Homo sapiens: one gene and its partners. The protein of the gene in region 2 interacts with the protein of the main gene of each other region in a pairwise test. Each region holds a gene or a part of one and is shown on either strand. Other genes may lie near its edges. The genes, in order: NUP54, EIF3F, CASP6, POGZ, VEZF1, PRPS1 and MKRN2.

Region 1 (3,500 bases), on a different chromosome or scaffold from region 2:
ACTGTCAAATATAATCATGGTAAAAATACAAATTTTTGCAGAATAAATAAAGTTCAAAAAAAGCACAGATTGAAAGGAACTATCTATAACCTATAGGATAATAGATTAACCTCCAGAATATAGAAAGAGTTCCTATACATCAAAAAGGAAGACAAAAAAATCTAGAAAATGGGCAAAGGACACAAATAGGTAACTCACAAAAAATATAAATGTAGCTAATAAACATATTAAAAATAAGTATTAATTTTTAAATTAATTATTTTGCCATCAGTGGCCAGAAAAAATAACATTCCTGTTATGAATATAAACGGTAGAACTTTCCCTGGAGGGCAATTTGGCAATATCTAACATACATAATATTGACTCAAAAATTTCATTACCAGAGATCTATTCTAAAGAAATATATACCAATGTGTTCTAAGACATGTTTACAAGGATATTGTTAATTACTGTACAGTTTATAATAGTAAAAAGAAAACAACTTAGAGGTGTTAAGTAAAGGTGTATCCATGGAATACTATGCAATGTTTAAATACAGTAAGATTTATCTTCATGTATTGACATGAAAAGTGCTAAGGAATACTGTAAAAAGGCAAGCTGAAGGTGTATATGGAGAATCCTTTTTTAAAAGATCTACATGTAAATATGCTTACATTTCAAATCACAGATAAAGGATTAAACATAGTACCATAAATTGACAGTAGTTACTTCCGGGGAAAGGAACTAAAGGTAATCTATCACATAGTCAATCTAGTTATGCCATCCAGAATATTTTACAGTTAGAATACATTCAGGTTTTACTTGAATATTCAGTTAAAATGAGATAAGCTAGAAAAAAATAAGCCAAAATTTTACTAGTAAATTACCTTTGGGTAGATGGATTATGGACTATTTTTCTTCAGTTCACTATTTCTCAAAATTTCTATTTTAACATATACATATTAGCTATATAATAAAAAACTAAATGAATACAAATATTCAAAACTATTTCCCAAATAAGTAGATATATGACAAGATGATACTAATTTTATTAGCATTAATAACCAACCAACACCTCTGAAATACGGGGAGTGTTTAGTTCTAAATCTTTCTTTTTTTTTGAACTCTGTGATTCTAGAAACATACCAGCAGGAGGATTCTGTAAAAGCTGTTTGATCTGTGCAGGAGAAAGTTCTGTTCTAGTCATAGAAAGGGTTACACCAAGTTGCTGCAATTGTGTTTTTATATTGGCTTGTTCAAAATGGGCATATAGCGTTGTAGCTGGAACTCTTCTTGAAGTACCATTTGGCGAACGCTCAACAACATAAATAACAACTTCTGTCCTGAAGGAAGAATAACCAATTTATAAAATATGGAGCACAAAACTCATAGCGACAAACCTCAGCATATCATAGCATGTGATTTCAGAAGGGTTTAAGTTGAATTCAGAAATGGTTGTTTTAGGAGGCAATTAAAATGTTTCCTTTTTTTTTTTTTTTGAGCAAGGTTTGCTCTGTTGCCCAGGCTGGAGTGCAGTGGTATCATCACTGCAGCCTCAATGTCCCAGGCTTAAGCAATTCTCCCACCTCAGCCTCCAAGTAACTGAGAGTACAGCTGCACACCCGCTACGTTTAGCTTACATGTATGTGTGTCTATACATAAATATATATGATATATATATATATATATTTTTAAATTTTTTTGAGAGACGGACACTCGCTATGTTGCCTAGGCTAGTCTCAAACTCCTGGTCTCAAGCAATCCTCCCACCTTGACCTCCCAAAGTTCTGGGATTACAGGTATGATGAGCTGCTGTGCCCAACTGTTTTCTTCTTAAATCTTGGAAAATAAGAAAGTTTTACTTCATGTAATGTTCATTTACAAATCAACCTAAATGATAAAGTTAAAAAGAACCAGGTAAATAAGATAGTATTTGTTTTTTTTTTTGAGACGGAGTCTCTCTCTGTCCCTCAGGCTGGAGTTCAGTGGCTCAATCTTGGCTCACTGCAAGCTCCGCCTCCTGGGTTCATGCCACTCTCCTGCCTCAGCCTCCCTCGTAGCTGGGACTACAGGCACCTGCCACCACGCCCGGCTGATTTTTTTTGTATTTTTAGTAGAGACAGGGTTTCACCGTGTCAGCCAGGATGGCCTCGATCTCCTGACCTCATGATCCGCCCGTCTCGGCCTCCCAAAGTGCTGGGATTACAGGCGTGAGCCACCGTGCCCGGCCAATAAGATAATATTTATAAAAGGGTTTGCTTAGTTGCAAAATCCTATGTAAATGTTATTTACTATAGGAAATTCTGTTGAAATTTATGGGCTGCTTCTCTGCAATTACAACCACAAGTAAAATCTGTTCAATTATTGCATCTCATTAATAATCATTCCTCCAAATATCCTAAAATAAATGTCTTGCCACTAACACTGAGAATTATACTTAGGTCAAGGGAAGTAAAGCAATAATATTTATTCATGAATGAACATGAACAGTAATGAGTTAATAACATTTTCCAATAACATCTTTATGGCCCTCAATTTGCACGCATCTATGACAAATGGTCCCTTCCTGGCCTGAATGAAAATCTAGAAAATTATTAGCATCTAGTAAGTTAAAAAATCCAAAATTTTAAAAAAACTTTTAAATAAATGTTTTTATCAATACTGAATAATCACTAGCTGAGAAAAGGCATTCTGCTCTGAGAGTTAATTTGTGCTTTAGCAACAAAAACATTATTGATCACTCCCTTAGGACCAGAAATAAATACACAGAAATAAACAGTATATTTATGTATACTTACTGATCATCTGGCAATGTTTTAGTGCCCTCTACATTTACAGTAAGGGTCTGGTTTCCTCCCAAAACTTTATGCAATGATTCTACCAACTGTTGTTGTTGGCTTCGAATCTCTGTTTCTTTTTTGTTGAAAACTAAAACCACTAGCCCATCTTCATCTTTATTACTGGGCATGCAACTATAACCTACTGCCTGTGGAATGACAAAATAAACAATATAAAAAATATGTACAGATCTTAAATCAGGTGTTTAATATTAATAGCTTAATATCTGCTAAAATGGGAAAAACAACTTAATGTCTGGTAATTAAGGGAATAATGATTCTTCCCACCATTTTGTGCCCTAGGAGGTCACAAAATTATAAAGAAAAACTATTTTACCCAGGAATAACATTAACCTATAGAGTAAGATTAACATTTCCTCTTTGAGAGAGTAACTAAACAGCTTTCTCCCCTAAAAAATTTTGATATTCATTATTGTTGGTTGTTTCTGAACCATCTGCATGTCATTATAAAAGTGACTGCAAAAATCACCAACTAATTATAATTTATTTCACTATACAGATTCTCAACTTATGATTTTTCCATTTTATAGGGTGTGAAAGCAATACGCATTCATATATACATACATGTAAACCATACATGGAATTCTGATCTTTTAGTTTTTATTATAAAATTATTATTATTATAAGATGGACTTGATGTTAGATTATTCTGCCCAATTGTAC
Region 2 (2,508 bases):
TCTCTTCAACATACTGATTTCATTTCCTTTGGATATATACCCAGTAGTGGGATTGCTGGATCATATGTGTTTTTATTGAGGAAGCTCTACAAACTGTTTTCCACAATGTCTGTACTAATTTACATTCACACCAAGTGTAAAAGGGTTCCCTTTTCTCCATACCCTCACCAACGCTTGCATTTTGAGTCTACTGAACTATTTGGTTTTATGTTCTTTTATGGACCAGTACCATATTGCTTTAATTACACAGTTCTATAATATATTTTATATCTGGAAGGGCTAGTTTCCCTCTGCAGGGATTTTTTGGAGACATTTTTATTTTTCCATATACATTTAGAAACAGCTTGCCCAGTTCCAAAATAGCTCTTTGTATTTTATTGTAATTATGACAAATATGTAGTTTAACAGGGAAAATTAACACCTGTTAAAATAATGTTGAGTCTTCTTATTCAAGAACATGATATGCCTTCAAGTGATTACATCTCATGTTTCTCATTAGCATTTTCAAGTTTTCTTCCACCGTATCAACTGGGTAGTACTAATTTTTTAAAAACCCTCCTCCTTTTCACTTTTTTTCTTGAGAAAGGATCTTGCTGTCACCCAGGCTGGGGTGCAGTGGTGCGATCTCAGCTCACTGCAACCCCTACCTCCTGGGTTCGAGATTCTCCTGCCTCAGCTTCCCAAGTAGCTGGGACTACAGGTGCGTGCCACCACGCCTGGCTAATTTTTGTATTTTTTGTTTTTTTTTAGTAGAGACGGGGTTTTGCCATGTTGGCCACGCTGGTCTTGAACTTCTGGTCTTGATTAACCCATCTCAGCCTGCCAAAGTGCTGGGATTACAGGCATGAGCCACTGTGCCTGGCTCCACTTTATCTTCAATGTCTCTATTTCCTCTTGTTTAAATACAATGGCTAATAAGTCTAGAATAACGCTAAGTAATAACACCACACTATGGTCATGAGTTCAGGTTGGGCTATTTATAATATAATCAATACCTATGATGAAACCACTGTCCAACCTCAAACTAGATAATTGCTGATAACAATACAGACTTATTTTACTTGCCATCCTCTTCTCACCACCAAAGTAAACATTATTGGGAATTTTTATCATTCTTTTGTTTTTTATCATATATATAATATACACACACATAATAGTCAATTCTCATTTTTTGCAGACTCCGTATGTGTGAATTTACCTCTTGCTAAAATTTATTTCTAACTCCAGTATCAGTACTTGCTGGGCTTTTGCAGCCATTTGCGGACATGCAGCATGTGAAAAAATTTGAATTGCCTGCTCTCCATGTTCCCAGCTGAGGTGGAACAAGGCCTTCTTGTTTCAGTTCTTATAAACAAGTATCCTTTTCAGTCTATTTAGTGCCATGTCTTTTGCATTTTTGTGGATTTTGCTGCTTAAAGTGACCCCCACGCACAGTGCCAAGTGTTCCTAAGTGCAAGAAGACTGTGATGTGCCGCCTGGAGAAACTGAGGTAAGCTTCATTCAGGAATAAGTGTCGTGGGCTAAGTTCAGTGTTAATGGGTCAACCATATATACTAAGGTGTCTTCAAACAGAAACACATGTAACAAGTTTATGTACTGATGGGTTGATGAAACTGTGCCCAGAGGTTCATAGGAACCCAACCCTGTATTTCCCTTGGGAATAATGGTTCAGTACTCTCTAATTCAGTGTTCATGGTGACTTTATAAAACATAACTACTATAGATAATGAGAACAGACTATACATATATATATACACACACAGTCACCGTTTAGTATCCGTGGAGGATTGGTTCCAGAACCTTCCTTGGATATAAAAATCCTCTGATGCTCAAGTCCCTAATATGAAGTATTTGGATATAACCTGTGCATACCTTCTCATATACTTTTAAGTCATCTCTAGATTACTTATAATACCGAATACAGTATAAACACCATCTAATACTTTGTATTGTTTAGGGAAAAATGACAAGGAAAAATGTCTGTACAGGTTTAGTCCAGACACAATTTTCCCCCTCAATATTTTCAACCTGTAGTTGGTTGAGTCCATAGATGTGGAACCCACATATACAGACAGCCAACCGCATGTCTAAACAAGTTTCACTTGTTTTTGAACTTCTGGAGTATCATAATGTACATGTCTTCTGACACCAGCTTTTTTCATTCAACATTATTATTAACATTCACCTATATTGTTACTCACAGCTGCAGGACAACTTTATGTCCTTGTTTTAGATGTGTCTCCTGTAAACAGCATATGATTGGGGTTTGTTTTAATATTCAATTTTTCCTTGGGCTAGTTTAATACTTATACATTTATTGTAATTACTGATCTATTTGGACTTGTTTTGCCATCTTTTGTTTTATCCACCTTTTCTATGCTTATTTCTCAAATTTAAAATTTTGTTTCTTCCCTATTATCCCACCATCTCTCATCACTATTCATTGAGAGATTATATATACTTCTAGCAATTAACCTCGGAATTTTATCATGCATACTTAAAAAGACT
Region 3 (3,500 bases), on a different chromosome or scaffold from region 2:
GGGAGGCCAAGGCGGGCAGATCACCTGAGGTCAGGAGTTCAAGACCACACTAGCCAACATGGTGAAACCCCATCTCTATGAAAATACAAAAATTAGCCAGCCATGATGGCAGGTGCCTGTAATCCCAGCTACTCGGGAGGCTGAAGTGGGAGAATAATTGAACCTGGGGGCGGAGGTTGCAGTGAGCCGAGATTGCACCATTGCACTCCAGCCTGGGGGACAGAGCGAGACTCCATCTCAAAAAAAAAAAAAAAATCGTTAATGATGTGCCAAGTAATATTCATGCAAAAAAAAAAATTTTTTTTTTTTTTTAGACAGAGTCTCGCTCTGACGCCCAGGCTGGAGTGCAGTGGTATGCTCTCGGCTAACTACAGCCTCTGCCTCCCAGGTTCAAGCAATTCTCATGCCTCAGCTTCCCGAATGGCTGGGATTACAGGCACCTGCCACCATGCCCAGCTAATTTTTGTATTTTTAGTAGAGACAGGGTTTCACCATGTTTGCCAGGCTGGTCTTGAACTCCTCAGGTGATCTGCCTGCCTCGGCCTCCCAAAGTGCTGGGATTACAGGTGTGAGCCATCACGCCTGTAAAAAATACTTTTATCCCTAAAACCAATTTGGCAGCGGGGAAACAATCTTGGTTTAAGGGGCAATGTGAAAGGGATGAGACAGGATAAGACTAGAAGGCTTTATTTTTCCATTCTTTCCACTGGTTTATATGCTCTCCACCTCCCAAAGAAGCAAACCTAGTCTGATGAGGTTGCCTTGTGCGGCACTCTTCAATCAGCAGGTACGCTTTCCAATGGCTCTCCTTGGTATCAGGCTCGGACAGGGAGTAGCACATTGGTTACTTTGTGAGTCACTTCAAATCTCAATCCAAATGCTGTTATTTTGTAATATAGACAATGAGAGTGTCAAAGAATTATTACTAACAGCTCAAAGTGCAACTATGATTGGCCAGAATTCAAAAACGGCCTGTCCAATTACTGGAGAAAGTTACTTTCAAAACTGGCTTTTAGACCTTTATCACATGTTCAGAATGACAGACTTTATAATTAAGATGATAATGTACTCAGTCTTACCTGAATGATAAATATCTTGGGTTTTCCAACCAGGCTGTGACACTTGTCTCCTTTGAACAAGCCAGTTAATGTCTGAATTTCGATTTTAGCATCATATGCATAAATGTGATTGCCTTCGCCATGGCTCAGGAAGACACACACAAAGCAATCGGCATCTGCGTGGCTAACAGTTGACACTATAAAGGACCCAAAAGAGAATATAGAAATGAAAATATGATGCTTGTTATCTACACATAAAAATTCAGTTTATTAACACAAGAATAAAGTTACATCCACATGATTGGGGAGGAGGAAAATTTGTGGTTTTGTCTTTTTTGTTTTTTTGAGACAGAGTTTCACTCTTGGTGCCCAGGGCTGGAGTGCAGTGGCGCGATCTTGGCTCACTGCAACCTCCACCTCCCGGGTTCAAGCGATTCTCCTGCCTCAGCCTCCCAAGTAGCTGGGATTACAGATTTGAAACCATATCCAGCTAATTTTTGTATTTTTAGTAGAGACGGGGTTTTGCCATGTAGCCAGGCTAGTCTCGAACTCCTGACCTCAGGTGATCCACCTCGCCTCAGCCTCCCAAAGTGCTGGGATTACAGGCATGAGCCACCATGCCCGGCCTACTCTTTAATAAGTGTAAAATATCTGTGATGAAACAACTTAGTCTTTAATCAAACAATATACCGTACTGTATCTTATTTTTTTAAAAAAATCCAAATTTATTAAAGTTCAGAGTAATAGAGTTTGACCAAATTTCATTAGCCTTTCTAAAACACAGAATGATGTGGAAAACATAAAGGGATTACGATAGGGAATCTCACTTAAGATCCAAGTTATTTTGGCAATAAACTAAAAATTTCCTTGAATCAGCAGAGACCTTAGAGCAGAGTGGAAAGACCCAGAAACTGCTGCTCAACAGCTCCCCACGCATTGCTGCACTTTCACTATAGGAATACAGCACTTAGGGCCAGGCGCAGTGGCTCACGCCTGGAATCCCAGCATTTTGGGAGGCCGAGGCAGGTGGATCACTTGAGGCCAGTGTTCAAGACCAGCCTGGCCAACACGGTGAAACCCCATCTCTACTAAAAATACAAAAATTAGCTGGGCATGGGGGCGAGCTACCTGGGAAGCTGAGGCAGGAGAATTGCTTGAACCCAGGAGGTGGAGGCTGCAGTGAGCTGAGATCACACCACTGCACTCCAGCCTGGGGCGGACAGCGAGACTCCATCTCAAAAAAAAAAAAAAAAGATTATAGCACTTAGAGCTTCCAAAAGAGTACTCAAAGCCAGGTGCGGTGCCATGAGACTGATGTCCTCCAAAGCTTCTGAGCAAAGTAGAAAAGCTGGTAAAAGCAGCCAAAGTTAGAATGATGTGCAGTTTAAAGAAGAGCTCTGAAGAAAGTTTAAAGTAATTATGCAAATATAATGGTTGGCATGCAGCGATGATTATAATATAGGTTGTTATAATTAGAATACCTACCCCCTATTGACGCTGTGAGAATTAAAGGAGGTAATGTATGTAAACCAACACTATTTGGAAACCAGTGAGAAAATGAGGCATGAAAGGAGTCAATGAGAAAATGAGCCTGTTGACTGCCCAGCACCTGTAGTACTTGCATTTTAGGCTTTTACTGCCAATTGAAGGGGTCATTTCATTCATTTCTACAAGAGACTGTAACTAGTGGTATGCTAAATATAAACTTTAGAGGCATAATTATTTGCAAGGGTCTCTAAATGTGCTGGGTAACGGAAACACAGCAGCATACCCAAAACCTGTAACCTGTGCTAAATTAATACTTTTTTTGTCACACAAGTAATTACTTGTACCTGTCTTTACAGATAGGATAAAGGACTCGGTTTCATTAGAGGAAGATGAACTATATGATAGCAAAACTACCTACCCTCATGAATTTTGAGCAGTAGTTCTTCTGCTTTAAGATCATTAAAGCATTTCACTTCAAATCCTAGATCTGAAAACCTAGTGGTATATTAAATGAAATGTTAGCCTATAAACTTTTCAAAGTTGTCAAATACCCTTACTTTGGAAGAATCTATACACATTTTAACGACACATAAATTTGCTTTCTTTAGGAGAAAAGAAATGAAATATAACAATGGTGGTTTTCCCTTCATTCACCATGGTCGGAAAGGATTTAATCATAATGACAGCCGATTCAATTTAGAGTGTTGTTGTCTACTATGCAAATGTTAGTACAAATGCAAAAGCCTGTCAACATTTAATAGAACAGAGTAAGGAAAATAACTCAGGCAAGTTTTTTTTTTTTTTTTTTTTTTGAGACAGAGGCTCACTCTGTCGCCCAGGCTGGAGTGCAGTGGCTTGATCTTGGCTCACTGCAAGCTCCGCCTCCTGGCTTCATGCCATTCTCCTGCCTCAGCCTCCCGAGTAGCTGGGACTACAGGCTCCCACCACCACGCC
Region 4 (3,500 bases), on a different chromosome or scaffold from region 2:
TTCAGTAGGCCTAGGGCGGGGCTGAGAGTCAGCATTTCTAACAAGCTCCCACCTAATACTACTGGTACTTGAATAGCAAGGCCCTATGAAATTAGAGCACAGACCATCAAAACCGAAAAAACAGAGCCTCTCACTCTGCTAGGAGAGAAGAACAAATAGCTCTAAGAGTTGAAGGAGGAAACATATTAGAAGCAGGGGAGAAAATGAAATGAGTGCTCAAGAATCTGGCTGGGGCCGGGCGCAGTGGCTCATGTCTGTAATCCCAGCACTTTAGGGAGGCCGAGGCAGGTGGATCACCTGAGCTCAGGAGTTTGAGACCAGCCTGGCCAACAAGGTGAAACCCCGTCTCTACTAAAAATACAAAAAAATCAGCCAGGCATGGTGGTGCACACCTATAATCCCAGCTACTTGGGAGGCTGAGACAGGAGAATCACTTGAACCCAGGAGGCAGAGGTTGCAGTGAGCCAAGATCATGCTATTGCACTCCAGCCTAGGGGACAGAGTGAGACCCTGTCTTCAAAAAAAAAAAAAAAAAAAGAAGAAGAAGAAGAAGAAAAAAAGAATCTGAACTCTCAAGCTAAAACACTGGTTAAAAACCAACTTACTTGATCATGTGGTTGGCATAAGCTCGAGAACAGCAGGTGCTATAGCGACACAGAGAGCAGTGTACGTAAGTAGGGAAATGATTAGGGAAGTCTGGGATCTCGAAGCTGCACTCCAGGCATGTCTGCCGGCCCATGACACTCCTGTGGGGGAAAAAAAAAAAGAATTCTCATTACTGCCTCATGGGTCCCCAAAATGTAGGATTTTCAGACAACAAACCCTGCTAAAAAGCTACCAGATTGCACTGTGTATCAGGAATAATCCTGGCCACCCAGTCCCCACCCGCCCAGCACTTAGAAGAAGGCGCTGACATTTTCCTAACAGCTCTCTTCTGGATGCTGCGCTGGACAGGGGGATAAAGGAAGACAGGCAGAGGGTCCATTGAGGAGGTCAGCGGTGCTGCCTCCTGCAAGGCGCTGGGAGGTGTATCATTAGAGGATACAGGAACAGTTCGTGGCTGCCCTCGGGAAGCCCGGATTGTCACCTGAGAACCAAGGGAAGTAACAATGAGACATCACCCACACTAAATTTCAGAATACTGAAAATCTCTATTCCTCCCTCCCTGGGCCTATAAAAGACACTGGCAAACTCTTTACCTTGGTGCCTGGTTTCAAGCCCTCCAGCTGCTTGGGTTTACGGAAGGTTTTATGGTGTTGAAGCTTGTGTTCAATTTTGTCCTTGGCAAAGAGAAACTGCAGCCGGCATTTGTTGCAGTGATAAACATTTCTCTTCTGAAGTGGGGGAGGGAAAAAAAGAGACAAAATCCCTTAAAGGTTCCTAATAAATTTTCTTTTTTGAGGAGAAAGCAGATCAATGTCAACCATATCATTCTTCCCACCTTTCTGTTGATAATTTAAGAGAGTAAGAAAGAAATATGCAACATGACCACAAAACCTACCATTGAGAATCATCACCTCCCATGATATCAAAGAAAGATGGATTCTAGTCCAGGATGACTAAGTTCTCAAATCATCCTTTCCTGACTTGTTTTAACAATTTGAATGAGTGATGTAACCTTTATTTGTATTATATCTTTACACTGCTGACAACTGGACATTCTTCTGGACATTCTTCATTCTTCTTTTTTTAAAAAAGGACAATGTACATAGTAAACTAAAGTCATACTTTTTTTTCTATACTCTTCCAACTTTGCTTTCAACTCCAACACTCAGTCCCCTTCCATACAAACAACTTATTACCAGTTTCCTGAGTATGCTTTCGTGGGCAGTCTACACATATAACTGTATCACAAATACATTCATATCCAATCATTACCTGCCTCGCCCCCTTTTTTTGAGACAGGGTCTCTCTCTGTAGCCCAGGCTGGAGTGCAGTGGCATGTTCATAGCTCACTGCACGTCCCAAGTAGCTGGGACTACAGGCACGTGCCACCACGCCCGGCTACTTTTTGTATTTTTTTGTAGAGACGGGGTGTCACCATGTTGCCCAGGCTGGTCTTCAACTCCTGGGTTCAAGTGATCTACCTGCCTTGGCCTCCCAAAGTGTTGGGATTACAGGCGTGCATCACTGTGCCTGGCCCTTACTTTTTTCCCTTTCCTTTTTGTAGAGATGTTGTCTCACCATGTTGCCCAGGCTGGACTCCACCTCCTGGGCTCAAGTGATCCTCCCACCTCAGCCCTCTTCTTTTTCTCCTTTTAACACAAATGATAGCACTTGTCTATACCTTGCTGTTTTCTCACTTAACACATCAGTATATACAGATATGTCTCCTGGTGAGACCACTTTGAGGATTCAGTCTGCCTAGTATTGAAGTCCTTCAAAAATAGAACCCATGTCTATGATTTTCTTTAGTAGGATAACAAAGCTCTGTAAGCTTAGGCTAAGAGACAATTTCCATGCCCCTATTTGGAAATACAGTTGTGGTAGACAATCAGCAGTCACTACTGTGCAAAGGAGACTATGAGTGTAATAGGGTACATATGTTTGTGTGCATATGTATGTGACTATTAAGCACACATGCACTCATCTTATTCTCCATTTTGAATCCTCTCTTATATACTATATACCTTTCACTCTCCTCTAGTGGCTCTCTTCTTGTAGTATTTTAAAACGAAGTCATAGCTTTTCATCTTATAAGGAAAATAAAAGCAATAAAAAACTCTTCTTTGCCACTTCTTCCTCTGGATTTACCTACCCTGGGTCCTCCCTTTTTATAAATAAACTTCTTTAAATACATCGTCTTCATTTCCTTACCTCTCATTCATTTGTTCTGCTGAAATGTGACTTCCACCCTACCAACCAACAAAATGGCTCTCATCAATGTTGCTAAATTAAAGGCCTGTTTCTAAGTCTCTATGTTGCTTGACACCTTCCTGTAACATATGACATTTTGATCACACCCTTTTCTTTAAAACACTTTCTTCTCCCCAGTTTCCTTAAGGTTAAGACTCTTCTGGTTTTCCTCCTAGTACTATGGTGGTTGCTTTATAGATAAGGGACTTCAAATATCCTAAGCCTTCTCTTATTCTCAACAGGGTTGGGGGGCCCATGGTATTTAAGTTTAAAATCTATAGGATTTATATAACGCTGATTCCTAAATCTTTTCTACAACCCAGAGTTCTCTCACAGGCTTGAGATCTATTATCCAACAGCTACACTTGACATCCACAGATACTGCTAACTTACAATATCCAAGCTCATGATCTCCCCCCTCACAAATATACTTTCTCTATTGTTTCTATTTCAGCAAATAGTTCCCTCATTCACCCAACTGCCCAAGACAGAATCTTAGGCACTATTCTTAACTACTGCATTGCTACCTTCACCTAATCCATCTCTACATCATAAATATCACAAATCTTCTGAATATCTCTCAACTCTACCCTCTTTTTATTTCAAAAGCCAATAGCCACTATCATCTCTCACCTAAACTACTG
Region 5 (3,500 bases), on a different chromosome or scaffold from region 2:
TGAGAAGAAATGTTTTAAACCCATCTTCTCTTTTGGGTAGGACAGGGACCTAAACCTGTGGCCACTGCCTCCATCCTAGCTTCCTGGGCCTTACCTGAGCTGCTTGGGAGGGTGCACCTACCAAGGGCAGTCAGTCTGGTGCCCTTCCACCCTCCAACCAGCCTGATACTGGTCCCTCCCTCTCTCTCCAACCCAATACTGAGATGTGCGCACCTGAAAAGAAAGTACTTGAAAAATTCCTCTATTATCAGAGCAAACTGATGAAGCTTCTGAGGTATTAAACAATCCATCATAACATTTGTGACCAGTTAACTTTAATTTTCAAAATAAATCTGCAGTATTTTGCATGTTAGTAATACAGTGCTGGTATTGACAGGTAAAATCATCATCTGCTTACATAGAAACCTTCATTCAGGAGCACACCGTAGGAGGGGAACGGATACACAATAAAAAGCAAACGCAGGCCAAGCAGCGAGCCCTAGAGCGTAACAGGCTGGATGTCAGATTTAAGGATTATCTAATACAACTGTTTAGCTGCCAATCTGATAAAGGGGAAGCTCTCAACCAGGTTACAACCAGAAGGGAAAAACGTACTCTGCCTTTTCGTAGAGCAGTGGCTGTCGTGCCTTCAACACCTGGTTGAATCAGTTCATCAACATCGAAACTCAATTCCAGTTCCAAGACACAGAATTTCATCACACAACCTATTCGGTACCCCTTTTCAGTGGCCCACCCAAAACCCCCTCCTGCCATCGACTCTCTCCCTCCCAAAAGAAGACATGACGTGGCTTTATTATTGCAGACAAGCTTCTTAAGTGAATAAAGAATGCATACAAAATAGTATTTTAACTGAAGTCATACAATGAAGTCTCACTCCTGTTTATTATACAATGAATTGATAAAACAATTACTTCTAGTATATATCTTTTTTTTTTTAGAACTAATACTTTCAGGGTTCTGACAACCACATTCTAGCTTAGGGGTAGGGCCCACACCTGCCCCCACTGAGGACTGCTCCTTGGACCACTGTGGAGGAAGCCTGGGCTGTCTGAATTGTGAATTATGACTGCCAGCCCACCAGAGATAACAGATCCCAGCAGGCAGAGCCAGAACCCAGTTTTGGGTCTGCATGCCAGGAAATGTGAACTTCCTCCAAATGTGGCCACTGTGCCTCCCAATCCAGGCCTCAGCAAGGTCATTCTTGGGCTTTCCCTACACGAGTCCTTCCAGTAGTCCACACATAATGCTCTACATATTAAAAACAAACCATTTTTGTACTGTGGATAAGAACAGTTGTAACAAAGTCATAGCTACATATTTTTCTCTACATTTTGTTTATTGAGACAAACTAATTAAAAGGCACAAACATAGGGCATGTTTACATGGACATTATAACAAACATATACATTAAAAGTGTAGGAATGTGTTGCCTTCCTGCTAAACAGAAAGTTCCTAAGCTTTTATATATACAAAAGTTGTACAATTTAATGTCCTAAAGTACAAAAGATCATTTATAAAATTATTTTACACTAAGTACTATTTATTTTATTTTTTTACTATGTAGTTCAACCCCCTAGAACTGTTTTGTATAATGACACACAGATACCTGTCCCTGATGTAGGAAGTCTGTCTCAGATGCAAGGTATTTTGATGCTTGAACTGACACAGTAGGGTATAAATGGAAATCATCCAGTTTGATAGTCAGTCCTGCAAACATTCTGCAAGATTAACACAACTAATTTCCATTTCTCTTAACTGCAATGATTAAAAAATGAAAAAAACCAAAAACATATTGCAACTTAAAAAATCACAGCATCTTGGTTTAGTTAATTTTTTTTTTAACGCAATGCTTTAAAAACAATGCGTGGCATGATGGTGTAAAGAGTATCTGTTTCCCTAGCTTTTGGTTTCTACTTTATGTACAGAGATAAAATATCTTGCTAAGAAATAAAAAGCACATGTCTCAACGTGCATAATCATTGCTGGGTTTCTACAGGGAATGCAGACAGCTGTCTCCCTGAAAACACCACAAAGCTGATACAAGTGTTTTCTCAAAGAAAAAAAAAGTGATGTCCATATTTACAAAGTTGAACAAATCTGCGCAATACTTAAGAAACGGAAGGAGAAATTTAAAAAAAGATACACTCTGCATGTTCTGAAGGGGCATACACTACCTAGTTAGTGGTTAGAATAAAAACTGTATACAATTTAATATAAGACATAAACTCTAGTGAGCAACTAACACATCTGTCCCTGTTGTAATATCAACAGGCTCTGATTGGGAGAGAGAGGGGCATATCACATCCCAGTGCCTCCAGCGTCTTCCAATTTAAAGCAATATATTTGTACTGTTCCAAAGTACTCCTTGGCTCCTAAATAGGAATCCCACTGGACTCTGTTTATTAGGAGCTTGCCTGTCCACACACTTGACTTCTCCTCTGTCAGTTGAGGCTTTTCTTAGCAAAACACAATTTGTAGATTTTTTTTAAATTTTTTTTTTTTTTAAAAAGTCAACTACAATGCTATATTCCATCGGGATTAATATGCTGAGCAATATTTACATCTCCAAATATCAGGTCACAATCCCTATTATACGTTGAAGTTAGAATGATAAATTATCATATGCTTTGCATATCAGAGCTGGTATCACCTTTCCCATAGGGAATGCTGCCTGAAATTAACATATTCCCAAAGGTAAAATGCATATTCTCTGAAATGCATTTTATTATGACAATGCATGTATTTACTCATAAAAACAATAAACACAGACAATTCTACACTAGCTCTCAATCTGTGGATTTAAAATTTCAGGTTAAAATCAGCCATCCACCTTGTATAGGGAGAAGAGTTCTGCTAGTGTTTACAATAAAGTGATTCCTTGGGATTAGAAATAGTAATGCTGTTTTTTTATTTTGAAGTGGGTTCTACTTATGATTGGTTTTAATTCTGGCATTTCATCTTGCCAACTACTATCCTGTTTAAGCAATGTTGTCAGCTAAAAGGAATTTCTGATTAAACTAAAGTGGTCCAGTGATAAGTTACATACACACCCTACTTTGAATAATCCCAGCCAAATTGGAGAAAAATGCTACCACACTCTTATTAACTAATGTAATAAAATCTCCCAATTTCATGGTTTACTTTTTGCTTTAATCAACTAAAAGTTAAGTTGCTGGTAAATATTTACTTTTACCCATATTTTGATTTTATAATACTGTTTACCAAGGCGGTGATGTAGGCAAAGCTTGGGGCAAGAAAGGCATGCTCTCTACAGGTCTCATTGCTATATTGAGAGGGGCGGCTAATGTCATAGGTGTGGGTAGATTCATTGGAGATGTGATGGTGACAGGGTGTGCTATATTCACTGGGGCAGTGACGGGGGTGGGGAGGTTGACTGGGGTAGTGAGTGTTAAAGGAGAGGTCATGGATAATGGACTGGTTATAGTTACAGGATGCCCTATGTTCATTGGGCTGGTTATGTTAACTGCACTTGAAACATT
Region 6 (3,008 bases), on a different chromosome or scaffold from region 2:
GAGCCTTCAAAGTTGAGGCTGCAGTGAGCTTTGATTGCGCACTCCGGCTGGGGCAACAGAGCAAGATCCTATCTCAAAAAAAAAAAAAAAAAAGATGATAATCCTCCAATTACACATATTAATTTCAAAAAGCTCATAGATTAATGTGAACATTTTTAATTAAGCAAGGCCTTGTTCTTTTAGTGCAAGAGCACTCAAACTTTAGTTTCTAACAATTACTTGGGGAATTACTTTAAAATACTGGTTCCAGGACCTCTGGTTTTATAGGTCTTAGATGGAGCAAAGGAATCTACATTTTAATAAGAACCTTAGGTCCAGAGCACACTGAGAAACACTAAAGTTGGTAGAAGTGTACAATCAGTTTAAAGGTTTCACATTATATCTACAGGGGCCGATAGTTAACAGACAAACACATACTGTAAAGTATGGACTTGAAAACTTTAATTTGCATCAGAATCACTGGGAGAACCTGTTAAAATGTAGAATCTTAGGCTCCATCTTCCAGAGATTCTGAGGTGTAGCAATTTAAACTTTTAAACAGGTGATTTTCCCAAGGCTTGGCAGTTTGAAAAGAAAAAAAAAAAGGAAAAGAAACAGGTGATTGTTAACTTTTGGATCACAAATTCTGATGACAAGACTAAATCCTTCAGACCAAAGAAAGATATCTTCAGAATCCAGAGACCTAATTCAACGTAAGTAACCACCTCCTAAACACTTAGAAAAGTCTTGTTTTGCACAAATCTCATCCTCACCTGTATTTTGGAGCAATGCTTCATCTTGTCCTCCTGAGGTATGGTATTGGTGACTACTACTGCCTCAAAGCATGCGTTGTTGATGCGAGAAATAGCAGGACCGGAGAAGATTCCATGAGTCAAGATGGCATAAACTCTGGTGGCGCCAGCTGAGAGAAGTCTAGAGGGAAAAAATGTTGATTTGGATTCATCTTACTTGTCATTGCAGAATTTTAGTCAGGGAGGAGTATATTAGCCTGCTTAGGCTTCCACAACAAAATATCATATGAAAAAAAATAAAAAAATAAAAAATATTATAAGGCACAGTGGGTTAGGGGAAAAATTTTTTTAAGGAAAAGAAAATACCATAGAATGGGTGGCTTAAATAACAGAAACAAATTTTTCACAGTTCTGGAGGCTTAAAGTCCAAGATCAAGGTGCAGACAAAGTAGGTGTCATGCTGAGGCCTCTTCTCTTGTAGGTGGCCACCACTTTGCTGTGTGCTCAGATGACCTCTTTGTGTGTGAGTGTGAGTGTGTGTGCACGCATGCGTGCGCATGGGGAAATGCTGGCCAGTTCTCCAGCATTCTCTTCTTATAAGGGCATTCATCCCATTGTAAGGGCTCTGCCCTAGTGACCTCATCTAATCCTAAATACGTGCCCCTCAAGGTAACTCCAAATACCATCACATTGGGGTTAGGCCTCAACATATATGAATTTGGGGAGGACACAATTCAGTCCATATCGAGAAAGAACTGCACTAAGAACTTATCTGAATAGGTCTGAATTAGTGTCAAAGGACTCTGGCATAGACTGTTGCACTTAACAAAATCCACTTCCTCTTCTTTCTGGGCACATAGCTGAACTACATTTCCCAGCCTCCCTCACATAGTTCAGTGTGGCCATGTGGCTTAATTCTGGCTATTAAAATGTGGGCAGACACAATGTACATCAGTTTTTGGTTGGACTTAACAAAAATCTTCCAGGGGTGATCCTCTGTGTTCTTTTCCTTTTCTGGCTGGCCAAAATTGAAATGTCTTCCAAGGTAATCTTGGAAACCCCATGTTAAAGATATAGCACCAAAGATTGAAAGAATCTGAGCTCCTAACTATTGCTTAGAAAAAATGAGTCCAACAAGAACACTTGCATTGGAGTGTGCCATGGACAAGAAGGAAACTATCATGTTAGGGAGTTGATCTGTTATAGCGACTAGTATTCCCGTACTTGTACAAGGATGAAATGGGTTTTATGAATGTTTACTCCAGGATCCCAAACCAAGAATCATTCACCCCAATTTTTTTTTAGCACCTATTATGTGCCAGGCACTGTGCAAGGCACAGACACAAGAAAGTTTAAAAAAACCATTCTCAGGGCTGGGTGCTGTGGCTCACAGCTGAAATCCCAGCACTTTGGGAGGCTGAGGTGGGAGAATTGCTTGAGCCCAGGAGTTCAAGGACAGCCTGGGCAACATAGTGGGACTCCTTCTCTACAAAAATAATAATAATAATAATAAATAATTACCCAAGTGTGGTGGCACTTGCCTGTAGTCCCAGCTACTCGGGAGTCTGAGACAGGAGGATTTCTTGAGCCCAAGATTTCAAGACTGCAGTGAGCCGTAATTGTACTACTACACTCCAGCCTGGGTAACAGAGTGAGACCATGTCTCAAAATAAAAATAAAAGTAAAAATACCATTCTAAGAAACAATGCTGCTCATAGTGGCTTGGATTGTTAGTAATGAGGGGCCACTTAAAATCTTAAAGAGTGATGGGATCGAGCCTCAGTTGCAGGAAGATTAGCAAGCATGGAGAGATGGAGTGGGGAGGTGAGAGAACGGTGACTGGCAATGGAGAACAGAGTGGGGAGGCAATTTAGAACACTGCAGGCAAGAGATGACAAGTAATATAAACATTAACCTATCACAGGATTAGAGTGAAAAAAAGAAGTAATAATGAACAAAAGTAGCAGCCGGTAAAACAGTCGAGAAGTAAGACCAAGGGTTCCGGCTTAGGTAAAATAAAAATATGAGCACACACACCTGTCTGCTCAGGATTTTTATTTTAACTCATTAAAACAAAAAACAATCGCATGTAGCATACTCAGGGTGATCAAAAAACTTTGATGATCAGGCGATGGTTGTCTAACATTGTGAATATAGTTAATGTCATGGAATTATACACTTAAAATAGTTAAAATGGCAAATTGTGTTATATGTAGCTTAGTACAATATAAATTTAAAAAATAAGAAAATCTGAAAAAAAAATAAGAGTACTCAACA
Region 7 (3,500 bases), on a different chromosome or scaffold from region 2:
TTACCTCTTGATTATCTAGGAATACGCTGTCCATTTAAACATGCCTTAGGCCAGGTGCAGTGGCTCACACCTGTAATCCCATTACTCTGGGAGGCCATGGTAAGAGGACTGCTTGATCTCAGGAGTTCAAGACCAGCCTAAGCAACATAGCAAGACCTCACCTCTGAAAAATAAAATAATTTTTTTTTTTTTTTGAGACAGAGTCTCTCTCTGTCGTCCAGGCTGGAGTGCGGTGGTGCAATCTCAGCTCGCTGCAAGCTCCACCTCCTGGGTTCAGACTATTCTCCTGCCTCAGCCTCCCAAGTAGCTGGGACTACAGGCGCCCGCCACCACACCCAGTTAACTTTTTGTATTTTTAGTAGAGACGGGGTTTCACCATGTTAGCCAGGATGGTCTCAATCTCCTGACCTTGTGATCCGCCTGCCTCGTCCTCCCAAAGTGCTGGGATTACAGGCGTGAGCCACTGTGCCCAGCCAAAATAAAATAAAATTTTAAAAGTTAGCCAAGCCACCACACCTGGCATTTTTAAATTTTTTTATTATTATTTTTCTTGAGACAGGGTCTCACTCTTATTGCCCAGGCTGTAGTGCAGTGGCACAATCTTGGCTCACTGCAACCTCTGCTTCCCAGGCTCGGGTGATCCTCCCACCTCAGTCCTGCCGAGTAGCTGGGACTACAGGTGTGCACCACCACACCTGGCTAATGTTTGTATTTTTTTTTTTTTGTAGAGACGGGGATCTTACCATGTTGCCCAGGCTGGTCTCAAACTCCTGGGGTCAAGCAATCTGCCTGCCTTGGCCTGCCAAAGTGCTGGGATTACAGGTGTGAGTCACCATGCCTGGCCCTCCCCCGCCTCTTATCCAGCTTCGTACCCTCTGCATCATGCATAGGGCCTAGCATAAGGCAAAGCCTCCCAAAACACTGCAGACATTAATGACTTTAAAAGGCCCTTCCAACAAGTGGCTCCTCAGATTCTATGATTTGGGCTCAAATCTTCCAAAACTTCACCTAGCTGGATCCCAACCATGAGGAAGTGTGAACCCAGGGAGGGAGGATGCTGTATCTGCATGTGATAGAGACATACACACAGACGACATACCATGGTCCTGAGCTAGATCTGTTCTTTGAACTTAGCATGATTTTATATTTCAGATACGACTTCTTTTTCTCTTTATTCTGAGTAATTAAAAATTGGCAAAATAGGCCGGGCATGGTGGCTCATGCCTGTAATCCCAGCACTTTGGGAGGCCAAGGCAGGCGGACAACTTGAGGTCAGGAGTTCGAGACCAGCCTGGCCAACGTGGTGAAACCCCATCTTTCCTAAAAATACAAAAAGTAGCCGGGTGTGGTGGTGGGCGCCTGTAATCCCAGCTACTCGGTGGGGCTGAGGCAGGAGGATCACCTGAGCCAGGGAAGCAGAGGTTGCAGTGAGCCGAGATTGCACCACTGTACTCCAGCCTGGGTGAGAGGGAGACTCCATTAAAAAAAAAAAATGGCAAAATGACTGCAGGAAAAAGAACCTGAAAACAGGATGTAAATATACCAGATACATAATATGGGTATTACTGGCAGGGGGATGCCTGTGGAAATACCAACAATTCTGTCACTTAGTACATTTCAGATTTCTTGAGTGTATATGGATGGCCTTCCGTGTCCTGTTCAGTACATTTCAGATTTCTTAACATGAGTTCATGCAAAGGTTTGTGACTTTACCTTTTCATGAGCCTTCCTCTGCTCTGGGTCGAATGGGTGCAAGACTTGCAGCCTACAGATTTCACACACCTCCCCGTGCAGGTAGACACAGGCATCCCCAAACCGGCACTCCCCAGCAGCTGCGTAGGGGCACAGCTGCTGCTCGTTGCTGTAGGAGCTGCTGGCCTCCACGTCATCAAGGCCACTCCTGATGGCATCCAGGTAGGAATGCGGCTTCATCTCGGGGCTGGGCTGGGGGTCGCTGCAGCTGCCTGGATTACTCACCATGCTCGGCTGGGTCTTCCTTTCAGCCATGCCAGAGAGATCTGAAAACAACACACAGCACACATGCACATGAAAATGGCCCCATTTTTCTGGTATGCCGTTAGCCAAAGCCTAACATATTAAGCTACTCTGACCTAAGAATTCCACTCTTGAGAACATATGGCAAAAAAAACACACCGAAGGGGAAAAATAAAAGGAATAGTATAAAATGTTCATAGTGACATTACTTATAATTACTTAAAAAAACAAAAAACAAAAAACAAAAATGGCAAGACAGGGAAATAGCAAAACAATAGGATATACTTATACAAAAGAACACTAAAGCCGTTTAAAATGGCAAATATGGAAATGTTAACACATGGACCAGTTAACACTAAAACAAACAAAAAAACAGTGAGAGCACTAGAACACAGTGTTTCCTTCATACCAGCAAAGGTAAAATCATTTTAAGTGAACTAGAATAGATGTCTAGAGCAAATCTGTGGGTCCTGAGGCCAGTGTAAACTGCCCCATGGTCACCCCTTCTCACGCCAGGAGCTGCTGCCTTCCCACTGCACACCTCCGAGCTTGTTTAGAGGTCACGTATTCTCACAGGATTACTCATTTGCTGAGGACAGAATCTGCCTACCTCATGGTAGCCAATTCCAAGAACTAGAAATCTCTTCACCTGGTGAGGACCAGCCAATAAAAACAACTTTTATGGCCAGGTGCAGTGGCTCTTGCCTGTAATCCCAGCACTTTGGGAGGCCGAGGCGGGCGGATCATGAGACCAAGAGTTTGAGACCAGCCTGGCCAACATAGTGAAACACTGTCTCTACTAAAAATACAAAAATTAGCTGGGCATGGTGGTGGGCACCTGTATTCCCAGCTACTCAGAAGGCTGAGGCAAGAGAATCCCTTGAACCCGGGAGGTGGAGATCATGCCACTGCACTGCAGCCTAGGCGACAGAGCGAGTCTCCATCTCCAAAAAAAAAACAAAAACAAAACAAACAAAAAACACAACAAAAAAACTTTTACAATTTGTAGCTTTCTTCCTCATCAAACCCTGTTTTAAGGCACAGACCATGCCCCAAACCCTAGTGTGCTATTCTTTTCCCAAAGGTGCAATCTAAACTGTCAAACACTGTCAGCATAAAAACTAAGACCATTCACTGGCCTAAAAGTCAAACAGTGAAACATGCTCTTTAGCAAAATATTTAGTTTTCTTTTTTTTTTTTTTTTTTTTGAGAGGGAGTCTCACTCTTGTCATCCAGGCTGGAGTGCAGTGGCGTGATCTCAGCTCACTACAATCTTTGCCTCCCGGGTTCAAGAAATTCTCCTGCCTCAGCCTCCCAAGTAGCTGGGATTACAGACACCTGCCACTACACCCGGCTAATTTTTGTATTTTTAGTAGAGACAGGGTTTCTACTAAACCATGTTGGCCAGGCTGGTCTCGAACTCCTGACCTCAGGTGATCCACCCGCCTCAGCCTCCCAAAGTGTTGGGGTTATAGGTGTGAGCCACTTTACCCAGACAAAATATT

Evidence for each region.
Region 1: the proteins of EIF3F (region 2) and NUP54 interact in binary tests that used the Homo sapiens proteins (3 or more experiments, as listed by UniProt).
Region 3: the proteins of EIF3F (region 2) and CASP6 interact in binary tests that used the Homo sapiens proteins (3 or more experiments, as listed by UniProt).
Region 4: the proteins of EIF3F (region 2) and POGZ interact in binary tests that used the Homo sapiens proteins (3 or more experiments, as listed by UniProt).
Region 5: the proteins of EIF3F (region 2) and VEZF1 interact in binary tests that used the Homo sapiens proteins (3 or more experiments, as listed by UniProt).
Region 6: the proteins of EIF3F (region 2) and PRPS1 interact in binary tests that used the Homo sapiens proteins (3 or more experiments, as listed by UniProt).
Region 7: the proteins of EIF3F (region 2) and MKRN2 interact in binary tests that used the Homo sapiens proteins (3 or more experiments, as listed by UniProt).

What each region holds. Positions count from the first base shown.
Region 1 is NC_000004.12:76,131,398-76,134,897, forward strand, and holds part of NUP54 (nucleoporin p54), read right to left. Parts: intron 2,966-3,500; coding exon 2,778-2,965; intron 1,323-2,777; coding exon 1,126-1,322; intron 1-1,125. UniProt on the Homo sapiens protein: Component of the nuclear pore complex, a complex required for the trafficking across the nuclear membrane.
Region 2 is NC_000011.10:7,997,337-7,999,844, reverse strand, and holds part of EIF3F (eukaryotic translation initiation factor 3 subunit F), read right to left. Parts: 3' UTR 1-2,508. UniProt on the Homo sapiens protein: Component of the eukaryotic translation initiation factor 3 (eIF-3) complex, which is required for several steps in the initiation of protein synthesis.
Region 3 is NC_000004.12:109,693,446-109,696,945, forward strand, and holds part of CASP6 (caspase-6 isoform alpha precursor), read right to left. Parts: intron 3,042-3,500; coding exon 2,965-3,041; intron 1,256-2,964; coding exon 1,080-1,255; intron 1-1,079.
Region 4 is NC_000001.11:151,407,495-151,410,994, forward strand, and holds part of POGZ (pogo transposable element with ZNF domain), read right to left. Parts: intron 1,335-3,500; coding exon 1,200-1,334; intron 1,088-1,199; coding exon 915-1,087; intron 747-914; coding exon 606-746; intron 1-605. UniProt on the Homo sapiens protein: Plays a role in mitotic cell cycle progression and is involved in kinetochore assembly and mitotic sister chromatid cohesion.
Region 5 is NC_000017.11:57,971,255-57,974,754, forward strand, and holds the end of VEZF1 (vascular endothelial zinc finger 1), read right to left. Parts: coding exon 3,219-3,500; 3' UTR 298-3,218; downstream 1-297. UniProt on the Homo sapiens protein: Possible transcription factor. Specifically binds to the CT/GC-rich region of the interleukin-3 promoter and mediates tax transactivation of IL-3.
Region 6 is NC_000023.11:107,645,510-107,648,517, reverse strand, and holds part of PRPS1 (ribose-phosphate pyrophosphokinase 1), read right to left. Parts: intron 913-3,008; coding exon 753-912; intron 1-752. UniProt on the Homo sapiens protein: Catalyzes the synthesis of phosphoribosylpyrophosphate (PRPP) that is essential for nucleotide synthesis.
Region 7 is NC_000003.12:12,570,587-12,574,086, reverse strand, and holds part of MKRN2 (E3 ubiquitin-protein ligase makorin-2), read right to left. Parts: intron 2,019-3,500; coding exon 1,714-2,018; intron 1-1,713. UniProt on the Homo sapiens protein: E3 ubiquitin ligase catalyzing the covalent attachment of ubiquitin moieties onto substrate proteins.